2 separate regions of the Homo sapiens genome follow, and region 2 is linked to region 1. Evidence: fine-mapped expression QTL. A gene starts in region 1. The other region holds a variant in brackets. All regions are shown on one strand. Distances are from middle to middle. Region 1 holds the start of PAM (peptidylglycine alpha-amidating monooxygenase). Region 2 overlaps PAM (peptidylglycine alpha-amidating monooxygenase).

What was found. PIP is the estimated chance that this variant, and not a neighbour inherited with it, causes the effect.
Region 2: its variant is fine-mapped to the expression of PAM in whole blood (INTERVAL, PIP above 0.99).

Annotation. Positions count from the first base shown.
Region 1 is chr5:102,752,175-102,760,515 of GRCh38, forward strand. PAM (peptidylglycine alpha-amidating monooxygenase) reads left to right here and starts at 3,131. Exons shown (of 26, transcript NM_001177306.2): 1 at 3,131-3,174. RefSeq lists enhancers at 2,160-2,685, 3,693-4,193, 3,765-3,854 and a silencer at 2,825-3,374.
Region 2 is chr5:102,777,707-102,786,047 of GRCh38, forward strand. The region is part of intron 1 of PAM (peptidylglycine alpha-amidating monooxygenase); the gene reads left to right. Among named protein-coding and RNA genes, the nearest start is that of PAM, 27 kb to the left of the region's middle. The variant T/C (reference allele first, on the strand shown) is at 5,223.

The DNA.
Region 1 (8,341 bases):
TCGCCCGCCAGGGCAGTGAGGGGCTTAGCACCCGGGCCAGCAGCTGCGGAGGGTGCGCCTGGTCCCCCAGCAGTGCTGGCCCACTGGCACTGCACTCGATTTCTCGCTGGGCCTTAGCTACCTCCCTGCGGGGCAGGGCTCGGGACCTGCAGCCCGCCATGCCTGAGCCTCCCCCAAGGCTGTGGGCTCCTGCGCTACCGAACCTCCCCAAGCCTCCTAGACTAGCGCTGCCCCCTGCTCCATCAGCACTCTGTGTCTAGCTCAGGGTTTGTGGATGCACCAATCAGCACTCTGTATCTAGCTAATCTGGTGGGGACCTGGAGAATCTTTATGTCTAGCTAAGGGATTGTGAATACACCAATCAGCACTCTGTGTCTAGCTCAAGGTTTGTAAATGCATCAATCAGCACCCTGTGTCTAGCTCAAGGTTTGTAAATCCACCAATCAGTACTCTGTATCTAGCTGATCTGGTGGGGACTTGGAGAACCTTTATGTCTAGCTAAGAGATTGTGAATACACTAATCAGCACTCTGTATCTAGCTAATCTAGTGGGACTTGGAGAACTTTTGTGTCTAACTCAGGGATTGTAAACGCACCAATCAGCACCCTGTCAAAACGGACCAATCAGCTCTCTGTAAAACAGACCAATCAGCTCTCTGTAAAATGGACCAATCAGCAGGATGTGCGTGGGGCCAGATAAGGGACTAAAAGCAGGCTGCCCCAGTAGCAACTCGCTGGGGTCCCTTTCTACACTGGAGAAGCTTTGCTCTTTTGCTCTTTGCAATAAATCTTGCTGCTGCTCACTTTTTGGGTCCACACTGCCTTTATGAGCTGTAACACTCACCACGAAGGTCTGCAGCTTCACTCCTGAGCCAGTGAGACCACGAACCCACCAGAAGGAAGAAACTCCAAACACATCCAAACATCAGAAGGAACAAACTCCAGACATGCTGCCTTTAAGAACTGTAACACTCACAGAGAGGGTCCGCGGCTTCATTCTTGAAGTCAGTGAGACCAAGAACTCACCAATTCCAGACACACCAGGACCTTGAGGGTGTGAGAGGTTACCGTCAGGTTACATTTAGAAGTGTTGTCCCAACTACTCTCCCACATTTAAGGCAAAAATATAGTCACCACTGAACAAGAAAATCATCTTGGCACAAAAATGTACTGAATTGAAGAAAGAAAACAAAGAGAAACAAAACACCATAGCCTAGAACTCCTGCCCCTCCACATTTTCTTCTCTCTCTCACACCACAAACTTTCTCTCTGTGACACACACACACACACACACACAGAGGAGAGACGTATTTGAGGGAGGGTCTCAAGTGCTTGCTTTCCTTAACAACCCAGACCAGGAGGAAGAGATAAAGTGACTTAGGAGATGCCTAAAGATGAAGAACAGCCCGGGATCCGTAAACAGACTCAGCTCGGTGTCTTCTCGCACCTTCTCAGAATCAAGTTTCCAAAATGAGGGTCATCCGCCTGCCTTGGAATTTGGGTTGGGAAGTGGATGGAGTTCCTGGACACATGCTCTAGGCCCTGACCAGTCTGGCCACTGCTCACTAGGAATTCTGTTGGGAGGGTGTACAACAGATTTTCCAACTGGTCTACAGCGAGCATCGGTAGTTTCCCTATGGAGAAAATGATTTTCTTTCTGGGAATCCCCCTATAGCCTGAAGGCTTTGCCTCATTTCCCATAGCTCCTCTCCGGTGTACCCCTTCGGTTCGCACTTTCCTACCTTCTTCCCAGTCCACTGGCTTCTCCTTCTTTATCTTCCTCAGTGTCCCTTCTCACAACCTCCCTGCTACCACACCAGATTCTGAAGGGGAGGAGTTGTCTGGAAAGACCAGAGCTGGGTGCTGGGGATCTGGAGCAGCTCGGGACCCGCGCTGCAGGGAGCTGGGATGGGAGAGGTGAGGGAGAGGAGGATGGGACTCTGGGAGAAAGAGAGGGGGCTGGGCTGGCGCTGGGGATGGAAGAGGCGAGGTGAACGCACTCAAGCGGTTACCTGCAGACAGGGAGAGACAGTGGCAAATACCTGCCTTCAATTAAACGCATATCAATTTGTGTGTGGGGTCAGTACTGCACATCATCAAGCCTCTTGGGTATAAAACCTTCCTACTGGAACTCTCCAGCCCCGCCCCCACCACCCCACGCGCGGCTCCCTGCTTTCTCTTGCTTTGGGGTGAGGCTGGGGATGTGGGTGGCTCCAGAGTTCCCTGCCCGCAGTTTAGGGGCGAAGTGATCGGTGTGTGCGCGCTGGGCACTCTGCGGGTTAAAAAGGTTTAGCAGAAAGGGATGCAGATGGAGGCGGGAAGCCAGGCTAAGAAAGGGATACCGACCTCCCTCCTCGGGTCGGAGGTGTGAACTGGGAAGCACTGCGCAGACCTGAGCGAGGTGGCCTGAATCCAGGGGCCGGGCAAGGGGGTGGTGTGAATAGAAATAGCACATTTCCCAGGCTTTCAGCCCCGGTACTCTGCCATCCTTCCAGTTCCATGCACTCAGCCAGGTCTCCAGGCTGGAGCAAGGGCTGGGGGTCAATGGGTCCTTCCTTCTCTCGGGAAACGTTCTTCTGGCGCGAAGCTGGGCGGAGGGAGAGTCGGACATTTTCCTCTGCTTCTCTCAGGGCAGCTGGCGTGGCCACCTCGCAAGGCTGCTTCTAGGGACACGAGACTCGGGAGGGTCAGAGACTTTCAGGCCGGGCCTTCACTCCCTTCCCCGGGGCACTTGGGCAAGAGTTCCAGCTCTTGGCTACCTCTGGCCCGCGCGTGAGTTCAGACACCCAGCACACGCGACCCCCGCAGGGAAACCCCGGGAAGCTGCGCGCAATCGCTGGGGACTCGCCAGGGCTCCACTTCCCAAGCTCCGCGCCCCCTGCGCCCAAAGAGGCAGGGCGGAGCAGAGGCCGCCGGCGTGGAGGAGGCGAGCGCGGGGCTGGCCCGGGAGCCGCCCCCGGGGAGGGACTGAGACCTGCCCCAGGAGTCGAGGGCGAGCGGCGGACCCGGCTGGGCCCGGCGCACGCCGAGGAGAGGGAGCCCCCGCCACCGCCGCTGCCTCCGCGTGCTCAGCCTGTCCCCGCCCAGGGAGCCGGAGCCTCCAACTAACTCCGCCCGCCGCTCCGCCGCCCGCAGGCTCCGGCTTCCGTCCCGGACAGAGCCCGTGGTCGCGCAGGTTGGTGTTGTTGCCGCTGCTGCCGCCACTGCGAGGCGGTCAGGGCAAGGGTGAGGGTGGGGGCGCGGAAGGGGGCCTGGGCTCGGGATCCTGCTGCCACCAATTCCTGGTGCCCCAGGAGGTTGTTGCTTTTTCTCCCGGGCTGCCCGGGTCGGGGGTGGGGGGATGGGGCGGGGATCCAGCGATGCGGCCAGGGAGGATTTTGGGGACTGAGCTATTCTCGCATTTCCCAAACCTCTCTCACGACCCTTCATCACCATTATTAAGTCCCTGGCCAGTTTGTGAGGGGTCGTCCTCCCCTCCGGTCCTTCTCACCTCCGCACTTCTCCTTGTGCCCTCTCCCTAGGGGGTACAATTTGTTCATTCGCCTTTTCTGCCCCCAACTTGGAGAACTCTCCGTGACGCCTAGAAAGCCTCCTCGGTTCTCCGCCCGCCCTTCAGTCTAGTTTGGGGAAGTAGAGGCCGCCGCGGAGTAGCAACCTGGGGTGTGGAGTGGGGGCGAGTGCCGGGAAGCAGTGGAAATTCCTTCCCCTCTTTCTTTCCCGTCCTTGCCCAGCTTTGCTCTCTTCCTGCCGTTTTGCCAGCCTCCGAATGTAATACGCGGGCGAAGGGCGATCTCCAAGGCAGAATGGGAAGTATCCACCACTTGGGATACTAGTTAAGTCTAGGTTCAGTCACCTTCCCAGCTCTGTGGCCTTGGGACCCGCCCCATCGGAACCTGTATGTTGTCATCTGCAAAATATGCGTCAGCTCTGCCTGCCGCTGAGGGTAGTTGTGGGGCTCCCTTGGGATGACTTAGGGTATTACGTGATTTTGAGCACGGTCTCTTGTCTCGTGCAGCTGCCTGATGGCAGGTCCTGTGTTCTGATCGTCTGAGTTCAGGTCCTTTGGCTGAGATGTGATTATCTCTCTGGGTGATTTGGTCAGTAGCTTTGCGGGGCTAAAAGGCATGTGTTCCTGGAGCTGGTCATTGGGGTTCAGAGTTGAAATCGTGTCGTCCCCACCAATCCCTGTGTACAAAGCTATGGACCTTACATCCTGTGCCTTTGTGGTCATAGAAATTCAAGTAGAAGGAAGATCTTATTGGACTTTGTTTGCTTCAGATGTTTTACATTCTTTACAATCGCTTTTCTCTTCTAGGTGCAAACTTAAATTTACTGCTAATTCTAATAATCCAGGAAGGATACTTTCATTTTAGTAAAATCAGACATTTAGCTCAAATAACATGTGACATATTGTTTGTAAATTTTCAGTTTATAATCACAGGCACAAAAAAGCATAGTTCATGCCATTCTAGTTACTTTATAAAGCAAGTAAATGGCCTAAAAAATCAGCTTTACAGGAAGTCAGGGCTGCAGTGAACTGTGTTTATACCACTGCACTCCAGCCTCGGTGACAGAGCAAGACCCTGTCTCAAAAATAAATAATCAGCTTTAGAATTGATATTAAATGGTAAGCCCTGTCGTTCCTGCATTCCTGACTTAATAGGCATTTTCATTCCGCGATGCACTCTGCTATATGCTTTAAAGATATAAAGATATAGAGTATGTTCCTTGTCCTGAAGGGCCTTCCAAGGTAACTTAAAGACTATGTAGTTTTATTTCATATTTTTATATGAACAGTCTTCTAATGACTATACATGGCAAGTAGAATGAGGTCAAGAATGCATTATCAAAGGCCCTTTAAGATCATCATTTGGCCGGCTGCGGTGGCTCACGCCTGTAATCCCAGCACTTTGGGAGGCCGAGGCGGGCAAATCACAAGGTCAGAAGTTCCGTACCAGCCTGGCCGACATGGTGAAATCCCATCTCTACTAAAAATACAAAAAATTACTTGGGCATAGTGGCAGGCACCTGTAATCCCAGCTACTTGGGAGACTGAGGCAGGAGAATCGCTTGAACCTGGGAGGTGGAGGTTTCAGTGAGCTGAGATCACTCCACACACTCCAGCCCTGGTGACAGAGTGAGACTCTCTCAAAAAAAGATAAAACTAAATAAATAAATAGATAAAAAATCATTTGGTGAGTTTGCATAATTGGAAGAAATAACAAGTTTGTTAAGACATTGCTTTCTAAAATAAAATGCCATGTGCTCCTACTTCATCAAGGTGCACTTGGAAATAAAATGAATTCTGTGTTTTTAGAATGAAAGCTTAGGAAAACATTCTACACATGTATGATGTGCTAATCAAATGTTAAAAGCTATAGAAATTTTAATTCTAACTTCCTTCAACTGTATGTTGTGGTTCCCACATACAGTTTTTTTCTCAACTCCTTGAGGAAGGAAATTATAATGCCTAGAAAAAATATACAGAGATTTAATGTAAGATTTTTAATAAGCTGGACCTTAAGGCCTGGTGGGTCCTGAAGTGACTCTGGAAATTTGACTTTAAAAGTTACGAGACTTGGTGAGACTGAGTGTGGTGGCTCATGCCTGTAATCCCAACACTTTGAGAGGCTGAGGCGGGAGTATTGCTTGAGTTCAGGAGTTTGAAACCAGCAACATAGTGAGACCTTCTCTCTACAAAAAATATTAAAAGAAAAAAAAAGCCAGGTGTGGTGGTGCACGCCGGTAGTCCCAGCTACTCAAGAGGCTGAGGAGGGAGGATCTCTTGAAACTGGGAGGTTGAGGCTATAGTGAGCTGTGATCATGCCACCACACTCCAACTTGGGCCACAGAGAGAGGCCCTGTCTCAAAAAAAAAAAAAAAAAAGACTTAGAATTTTGTTTTTTTTTTTTTTTTTTTTTTTTTTTTTTTTTTTCTTGGGGCAAAGAATGAGCAAGAATTCCACCTGGAAAAGATTGACCAGGGATCTTGACTTTCTGTCTAGGTTGTATTTTGTGTGACTCAGTGACATCTCTGATTCTTTTCCTCCTCCTAGGAAGAATTTATCTATCTGCTATGTGCAGAATTTATTAGGCTTTACATACTGGGCTTTGAGGCTTTGATTGGACTCTCACATTAAGGCATGGCAGGCTGAGGGGCAGCCTGAGGGACATAATGTTAACTTTACACTTGGCTTTATTGTTCCATACCTTTGTTTTTCTATTTGTGAAATGAGATTAAAGATCCTTCTTACTGCCCTGGAAGCCGTGTCATCTGGTATAATAGCCATAAATGCTTCTTGTGTGTATAAGAACTTTCTTTACCATTTGAATGCGAAAGCTAATTATTAAAACCACATACAAATAGCTCAAAAGATGGGCTGTGAATAAAGCTGCTGTTGGTGTCATGTGCTCTCAGGTATCCTGGCAGAAATTTCAGTCATCATGTATCCCTACAATTTACTGTGTTGTGGAGAATAAGGCCTTCATTTTATCTGGGGTTGAATGTTTACCTCTCCAAAATGGGAATAATGAAATACTAACCTGAAAGGACTGTTGTCAGCATTAAATGAGCTAATCCATGTGTGGTTCTTAGCACATTGCCAGTATACAGCTATTGCTCTATGACTCAAGTAGTTATTTTAGTTTCTCCAGGGTAGGGGGAGGGGGGAAGGAATGGAATTTCAGTGGTCCACATTTTAAAAATGAATACATATATAAAAATATAAATACACTCTTCCCCAATATTTTGAAATAGCCATTCCTCAGCTAACTTTTTTCATTCATTTATGCAACAAGTGTTTATTCAGCCCACACTAAACGTTTGGCTTTTTCCTAGGCACTGACATACAATGGTATACAAGACAGTTATAGTCACTTTCTTATGACTGAAAGGTCTAGAGAGGGATGCAGATCTGTAAACAGAGAATTATAAATTTATAAAGAAAATTTTTAAAAAATTATAATGCCATATGATTCATGCCATGATAAGGGTAGTGAAGAGAACCTCAGAAGATAGGATAGCAGGGTCCTGGGTAGGTGAATGTCACACAGTGCATCATCTCATCCTAATTGGGTTGGTGGTGGTGAAGGAAAACTTCCTAGCAGCATGAATACATGAAGACCTGAAGCATGAGTGGTAGTTAGCAGCTGAAGAGGTGGGAAGATTGAAAGAGACCAAAGGGAGCATGATGCCTTAGAATGGAAGTCAGGCAGAAAATGTTAAACAATACATAGGTAAGAGCAGGAGGGAGAGGCGTGGCAATCTGGAGAATCCAAGCTGTCTAAAGGGAAAAGTAGATACTCATTTCAGCCAAGTATTGTCAGGTTGGGATGCAGGCCAAGTGTTGCCAGATGCCTTGATTTCTAAAGAGGAGCTTAAAATTCATATTTTATAAATATGAAATCTCCCAAATATGAACTAACCCAAATGTTTTAAAAACTATTCTGTGGGCCAAACCAGACAAATCTGTAGTTGGAATTCAACCTAGGGCCACCACTTTATGACCTCTACATGTAAGAAACTGAGAGGAGTTTAATGTGGCTAAAGGCATAAACCTTAAACGGACAAGCAAGGGAAGCACTGGCTTTGTGGAACTTGCTAAGGAGGGGTGGCCTAATTCTAAGGACAGTGGGTGACATTGAAGACTGAAACAAGATGAGATTTGTGTTACAAGATGCAGTCTAGCTACTGTATAGAGAATGAGTGGGAGGAGGCAGTGGTGGAAGAAAGATAACCATTTGGAAGCTTACCGTGGTCATAGGAAGAAATTAAGTGTGGCTAAAAGCAAGGTATTCAAGCAGGTGGGAGATGAGTGGATTTCAGAGATATGTATGATACCCCTATGTTGGGATTCAATTCTCCATTAGTCACTCAGACTTTTGCATGTCTTGTGAGCAAAGGCATTTACTGCTTTCATCCCAGACTCTCTTAAAGACATTTGTATGGTAGATAGTTTTGGAAGATAGAGGTATTCTTTCCCTCTGAAGCAAAGGGCAGGTAGGTTTTACTGTCCAGTTTAAAAGATTCAAGTACCCTAAGCTCAGGGTTCCCCTCTGACAATGCAGATCATCAAGTATCTGCTTCACATCACATGGGGGGAACTGAGTTTCAGGACATTGGCACAACTATGCTGATACTACTGCTACTGATATTTTTGTGAGTAGTATAGTCCTTTGTTTCTCACCCTAGAATTTTCTGTCTTCTTCCAGCATCCCCATGAAACTGTGGCACCCTGATTTCGTTAGCCTGCAAGTAGGATAAAAATCTCAGACCCTTAATTATTGATAGCCACTAGCCACATTGTCTGTTTAAATTTAAGTATAAATTAATTAAAAATGGAA
Region 2 (8,341 bases), 26 kb after region 1:
TGTCACCATTCATTCCCGGGCCTGTTTTCCTCTGTAGAGGTATTTTATTTCCCCCCAGAAATAGACAGCATATTGGCTTAAGCCCTTTTTAATTTTCCCTACAAAGCAGAGGTCATTTAAGCTATTGTTTTCTGTTTTTACGGATTATAAAAAGAGAGAAAGTTGGTTTGCTAGATTAGCGATTAACATGGGGTGGTTCTATGTATTTTTCTTCTGTGATGCTGTAAATGAAAGGTCACCTGCCAAATTTCGGTTTGCCCTTGAGAGACCTGCGATCATTCCTTCTGCAGGCGGAATTGTGGAAAACACCTGAATGGCATTGTGCCGTCTTGGGGTTAGCCTGCTAGAGATCAAGTAAGCACCTCTTGGACCCCTGTTAGACAGAAAAAAAATTAAAGGAGAAAGCCTGCACCATAGAGAATTAAAAAGGAGGCGGGTGAGTTGCCTTTCTCCTCTCACCTCCCCACATGTATTTTTTTGAAGAGTTGATTTGTGTTCCCCTGTAATACTTGCATTTGCACTTCTGCATGGTCCTTGATTTTGCCCTATACTTGTATTTATATGTTTATATTCGTTCTATCTTCCCCATAAGATGGTAACATTGTCAAAGGCAAACAGTTTGTCTTTACTTTAAAATTGCCCAGAGCATTCTATATAGTATTTTAGACAAGGAGCATTCAATTAATGTTTACCTGACAAGTAAACAAGAGGAAAAATTAAGGTTTCAGGAAGGAGACTGTAACATTACCAAAAATCATATTAAGGATTCAGAATAATCAAAACTGGCATTTGGTCTCCCTGGCATTTAGAATGAAATAAAAACTAGACCCCATATGATGGATAAAATGAATCATGGGACTGCTCAAGTAGATTATTATTATTGTTTTCCTTCCAAAGCCTGGTCTGTGGCATTTTGTTCCAGAGGAAACTTGAGAGCTGTGGTGATTAAATCTTACCAAATTAGAAACCTCTGAAATGAGTCATTTTTATTTTCATTCACTTCATTTTTACATGGAAGATTGCATAGACAAGCAACCAAATGAACGAAGCTTAGTTTTCTGGTGGGTTGGTGATGACAGTTTTCTCAGTTTGTAGTTGTCGTGGTTCCCATGGTAATATTTTATATGTAGATGCTATACAGGTCAGGTTTACCCGTTTGTGTTTTTGGAGGGAATACTTTGTGTGCATTTGAATCAGGCAGTCCTTAATTCTCAGAGATCTACTAATAGTATGAATATAAGATCAGAATAGAATAGAATTATCTGTTGTGGAAAACTCCTTGGATTTGCCGTCAGAAAACCTGATGGGCTTCTCTCTGTGCCTCTAACTTGTCTTCTGCAAAGTGAAGGAATTGAGTGAGGTACTTTATAATACAAAGATTCTCAACCCTATTGGATCCAGTGTCTCCTTTTTCATAGCATATGTTTTGCAGTGCCCTCTTTATTACCAAGAAATGAAATTTATGTGTAATATAACCTGCCTAAGTGTGTAATTCAAAAATATGCATATATATGTGTGTGTATATATATGTGTATATATATATATGTATATATATAATTCCTAACTTTAATATAAAAGAGCAATACAGGAATAAGTAATTTATAATAAGATAATGTGTATTTCATTCAATATGTAAATGTTTAGTTATGATTACACCATAAGACCTAATGAAGTGTTCAAAAGCTTGATCCTATATGTAGAATAACAGTATGTGTGACAGCTACAAATGCAGATTGATGTCTTTGTTATATTGACCACTCAGATAAAGTATTCCCCCCCTTATCTGTGGTTTCATTTACTGTGATGGTTAATACGTGTGTCAACCTGATTGAACTGAAGGATGCAAAGTATTGTTCCTGTGAGGGTGTTGCCAAAGGAGATTAACATTTGAGTCAGTGGGCTGGGGAAGGCAGACCCACCCTTAATCTGGTGGGCACAATCTAATCAGCGGCCAGTGAATATAAAGCAGGCAGAAAAATGTGAAGAGGTGAGACTGGCCTAACCTCCCAGCCTACATTTTTCTCCCATGCTGGATGCTGGATGTTTCCTGCCCTCAAACATCAGACTCCAAGTTCTTCAGTTTTGAGACTTGGACTGGCTCTCAATGCTCCTCGCCTGCAGACGGCCTATTGTGGGACCTTGTGATCATGTAAGTTAATACTTAATAAACTCCCATATACATATATATATATATATATATATATATATATATACACACATATATATATGTATATATCTCCTAATAGTTCTGACCCTCCAGGGAATCCTAATATAGTTACCCTTGGTCAACTATGGTCCAAAAATTTGGAGAGTTCCAGAAACAAATAATTTATAAGTTTTTAATTGTACACCATTCTGAATAGCATGATGAAAACGTGTGCCCCCTGCTCCATCCAACCCAGGATGTGAATTATTTCTTTGTCCACTGTATCCACATTACATATGCTACCCACCTCACCTGTTAGCCATCTGGGTTATCAAATTTTAAAAGAACATAGCATATATAGGATTCAGCACTATCCACAGTTTTAAGCATTTACTGGGAGTGTTGGAAGATATGCCCCGAGGATCAGGGAAGACTACTGTACCACCATTGGCATTGTTGTTGGTGATGTGATTTTTCCAAAATGATGAGCAATTCTTGGCAAAATTTCAAATAAAACTAAATATTGTCTTTCTTGATTCATGTAGTAACTTCATTTCTAAACATAAGGGGTTTTAAACCATGTAAAAAATACTTGTGTTTTTATGTAAAATGGATTTGGGTCGTAAGCTTAGCTCATCATAAAGACATTTATTACCTATGTGATTTGTAGGACATTTGAGAGTTAAGTAGGATGTGGTGCCGTACTTCATTAAAAAAAGGTCGTGCACATTGCATGGTGTACCTCCCGACTGAACTCCTGCCTACTCTTGCTGGCAGCTCTCCCCACACCAGCCCTGACAACCAGATTTCTGAATCTCACACTAGGGGGCAGTACTGCATCCCATGAAAAATCATTGCTCTAAGGCAGGTTTCTTAACCTCAGCACCTTTTTCTTTCTTTCTCTTTCTTTCTTTCTTTCTTTCTTTCTTTCTTTCTTTCTTTCTTTCTTTCTTTCTTTCTTTCTTTCTTTCTTTCTTTCTTTCTCTGTCTTTCTCTCTCTCTCTCTCTTTCTTTCTTTCTCCTTTCATATTTTGGGTCAGGTAATTCTTTGTTGTGGGGGCTGTCCTGTGCATTGGAGGCTGTTTAGCAGCATCTCTGGCTTCTACCCCCTGGATGTCAGTGTACTCCTCAAGTTGTGATAACCAAAAATGACTCCAGATGTTGCCAAATGTCTCCTGGAGGGTAAAGTTGCCCCAGGTTTAAAAGCACTACTCTGAGATCTCTATCAGCTCCAAAAATCTGTCATGAGAATGATACAGTATTGATTAATATGCAAACATTGCATACAATACTTGTAGATATTGCTAACATTTTTGGGCCAGGTGAAGCCAGTAAGAAAAGCTTTTAATAATTACTCATTTTTTTGGGTCATTTAACACTGGGATTATATTATTGCCTGGCTTTAGAAGGGTTGAAATTATGTACAGTATAGGGTGATAAATTTTGTAGTATGAGAGCATAGGAGAACTAGAATTTCAAGAAAGACTATTCCAAGAAGGTCCTTTGGCAAGTAAGAGTTCATTGAATTCCTTTCTGACAAGTTTGACATTCATGTTAAAGGTTACAAAATCAGAATTTTAGTTTTGTAAGAAGTAATAGAAATTCAGTGGGTACCTTCTCATTTTACAAGTGAGTAAAAACCTAAATGCTAAAGTGCAGTTCACAGTTTAGTTGTGAATCAGGACTTTAATGCATGGCTTTGGTGTCCCCTGTGCTGTTCCTTTTACCACATTGCAGTGCTGCTCAGCCAGGCTATATTTATAAAATATTTTTAGCTTTCTGCAAGCTCTAAGTCTTGATAGGAAATAAAAGACAAAATAACATTTTTCTTTAAAACCTTGATCTTTAGAATGCATGCCAGGAAAAATAAGTGAGAAGGTCAGTTATTATATACAGGGACTTGCATTCATAGATTAAGCCCAGAAATATTTTTAATACTAATGTAATAACAACAATTTACATGGTGCTTCTTGTGGATTAGCCGTGCTCTTCTAAGAACTACACGTTTTTAATGCTTATAACAACCCTATGAAAACAGATACTGTTATAATCATCTCCCTTATGTAAATGAGGCATCAGGAACTTAAAAAAGCTTGCCCAAGGTCGTAAGGGTAAGTGGCTGGTCTGCGATCTGAAAACAGCCAGTCTGCAGTCCACATCCGTGTTCTTGTCCACTACTTACTCCAGCCTTAAACTTTGAACTGAATAAGGATGGATTGGTTTTGTATCCTTGCTCATGAAATGGATATTCCTAGGAGCTCAACATTTGGAGAATTTCAAACCTGAACACTTTAGAACACATTATGTTTTCTTCAAAGAGTAAATCATACCTCACACTTCTCCAACATTTACACCAAAGGTGAATTTGCTCTTTATAGGATATAAGAGCTTCTTTCATCTTGTCCATATCTGAAGCACTTAAAGCAGAACTCTGGTATGAAGTTCATAGCCGGAACGAATCCAGATCTAAATTGAAAGGATTATACAAAGTCATCTTCCTTGTTTGTTTCACCCTTTGTTTTCCCCCCAGAGGAAGGAGAGAAGATTTTGAAATCCTTTATTGCAAAATGAGTTTGAAATAGATACAAATAATAAATATGATTGACAGCTATAGAGGAGAAGGAAAAAACTTGGCTCTTGTTTTAGAAAGATACTTGAAAGGAAAACATCTATGTTTATTGAGAAGTGAGAAGTACATGCAAATCTTTCAAACATAATATTTGAAAGTGAAAATCACGTCATAGGATTTAGAGATATTCCCAAAGTCAATATTTGGTTCTTAAGTTCCAGGTAGTGGAAAAGTCAGAATCAGTTAAGTACCCAGAGCACTTGCTCCCTTCCTTTCTCCATTTCTCTCTCTCTCTCTCTCTCTCTGTGTGTGTGTGTGTGTGTGTGTGTGTGTGTGTGTAATTTTATTTATTACTGGTGAAACTGGTACAGGCAACATGTTGGCTTTTTTGTCAATCAGTTTTTTTTTTTGAGAAATTTTGCTTTTGTGAAAAATCTGCCTTTTCAAAGTTTTCTTTCCTTCTATTATACTCCCCATATTTTTGGTGTATCTGAGATGCTAATGGCC[T/C]TTCATTTTCAAGTTTTTATTTCCCAGTTGGCAGTACCACTTTTACACTTTGAAGATGGAAACTTGGCAGGAAAATTGTATGTCAGGGTGTATTTCTGTGTGGGGTTGCAAGGGCAGGAAAGAAAAAAAACTCAAATAAGAGGTATTTTCATTGAGTATGATCTTAGCTGGTGGCATATATAATTACCCAGTTATTTCTCTCATGAAATGAATGTTTATATTTGTTGTCATGACCAGGATCAGCTACACAGTTTGTGGGGCCCAGTTCAAAATGAAAATGTGGGTGTATTACCAGATTTAGCAAAAAAAAAAAAAAAATAGAGATGCCCAGTTAAATTTGAATTTCAAATAAACAATAAATAATTTTGATTATGTCCAGAATATCCTGGGACAAATATGATTCAGTTTTCTATCACCATAAATTAGTTTAAATGACCATTGCTTAGATCTGTCTTCAATTTCAGTGAAAGCAAAGGTTAAAACTCATCTGAGTTGCAATAGAAGGTGTTGCCTAGAATCATTGATTTTTTCAATACCAACACCAGTATTTGGAATCATCCCTTTATTTGGTCCCCACTGAAGTTTTCCCACCGTAAGACAAGGTTCATAGTAAAACTAAGCCTGAAGGCCTGGGTGGGAGAAAATAATTTGCAGATTCCAAATTCAGTCTCAGTACAATTTTAGGAACGAATATATATGAAGACCAAAGATCTAGAAATTAATTCTCTTTAAACTACCTCTGTGCCAGTTTGCATACTGGAATGTCTTTGAGTATCCCTTGGGATGTGCATGCAGCAGTATGAGGGCCACTTAACTAGAATGGAAAAGGGGAAGATGAATAGAACCCAGCGCCTGCCGTCAGGGAGCATACCAGCTGGAGGGTGACAGCCTCAGGAAGACCTAATTGTAGAACACTTGAATGGTTTCCCTCTCCTCTTGGATCAAGTTCAAAATTCTTCATGATCTACCCCCATCTTTTTTTTTTTGAGGTGGAGTCTCGCTCTGTCACCCAGGCTGGAGTGCAGTGGCGCAATCTCGGCTCACTGCAAGCTCCGCCTCCAGGGTTCACGCCATTCTGCCTCAGCCTCCCAAGTAGCTGGGACTAAAGGCGCCCGCCACCACGCCCAGCTAATATTTTGCATTTTTAGTAGAGATGGGGTTTCACCGTGTTAGCCAGTATGTTCTCGATCTCCTGACCTTGTGATCCGCCCGCCTCAGACTCCCAAAGTGCTGGGATTACAGGCGTGAGCCACCGCGCCCGGCTGATCTACCCCCATCTTTCTCTCTGTTCTTACCTGGTGCTCCTCTTCTCCCTGTGTAACCTCTAAGCTCCAATCATACCAGCCTTTCTGTCCCTAGCACACCTAAGCTGCTCCTGCCTATGTGCTATTGGGTCAAGCTGTTTTGGTGGGCTAGAATGCGCTTTTCAGTTTCCCCCCTTGCACCCACACACCTTAGATTTCAGGTTTCCTTGGCACCGTAAGCTTGGAAAAATTTAGGTATCACTGTTGTAAGCTCTCATATGACCCTGTCCTCCTCCTTGTACAGTACTTATTACAAAAGTCACTAACGTTTGGTATTCATTACCTTAAACTCTGATTACTTTTGTGCTGTTCACTTTCTGAGGACAGGTACCATCTCTGTCTTATCTAACCAGATATTCCCAGCAGAGAATGTAGCCTCTTCCATATTAAGGGTGAGTCATACATATATGTAGAATTGAATTAAAAATATACTCAACGTATTTGTTGAATTGAATTGATGTTAACATTTATGTGAAACATGACTTTGTGTCAGTCACTGGCGGGCATTTACTATATATTATCTCATTTAATTCACACAAAATCATTTGGGAATACATGCTTTTAGATAGGCAAACTTTATTATTGTTGTTATTCGTTTACTAGGAATTTTTAGGCAAAGCAAGTGCATAAACACCAGGTGAGTGGTCTTAAATGCCATGTTAAGGATTTGGAACTTTTTACTAAACACCAGTGATTCTCCATACTTTAGGAAATCAGAATCACCTGGAGGATTAAAAACAACAAAAAAGCAATGCCCGCATATAATTGGTTTAGGATTCAGCAAGTCATTTTATAAAACTTCCCCAAATAGACTTTTTTGTTGTTGTTCTTTGTTTTTTTATACTTTAAGTTCTGGGATTCATGTGCAGAACATGCAGGTTTGTTACATAGGTATCCCAAGTAGTTTTAATGCACAGCACTGATTGGGACACTAAAAAGTAGTGATGCTAGCCCAGCAGCATTAACACCACCTGTGAACTAGTAAGAAATGCAGATATCTGGGCCCCTTCCCAGTTTCACTTAATAAGAAAAGGGAGGGGGGAGTCCCCAGCAATCTGTATCTTAGCAAGCCTTTCAAATGAATCTCATGCCCTTTAAAGTTTGAGAACCTCTGTTATAAACAATTGGAAACTTAAAAAGCTTTGTACTTTTGTGTTTTACAAAAGAACTTTGGTAGATACGTGGGAGACTGAATAAATAAGGGACAAACCAGAGGGTAAGGCAACCTGTTAGAGCTGTTACCTTTAGAAGTATCATGTGGAGGTAAGAAGATGGCAATAAGAACTAGAGTGGTGGTTATAGGAAGGAAGGAAGGTGGTGGGATCAGGAGATGTTTCAAAAACAGAAATGGTGAAATATGGTGACTGATTGGCTTGAAGAGGTTGAGGGAGAGAGTGAGGTCAAAGAAAATATAATTTCTTTCTGAGTTAGTTAAGTGACATCATGAAACAAGGCAGAAATGTGTTTAGAAAGTGTAAGTTGGGGGAAACCATAAAAGTATTGAATATAAGGTGTCTTCAAGCATCTAGTAAGAGATGTTTTTGTCTCGTTGGAAATTTGGTTTCTGGAACTTTGGAAACAAATGGGGAGTAAGGAGTGGTGTTGGAAGTTCTCACCATTGTATTTAACTTTTTAAAAATCATTCATTCAAGTGGTTATATATGTACTAAATTATTTTTTTAACATGTTCGTTTTATTTCAAATTGAGCCAAAGATGTTGAACTTTACACAAACTATAATCTCTTACATTGGATCATTTATATGAAGTTATTTTTAATAATTATTAGAATTTATGGAATATGTTAGCAGAATTAT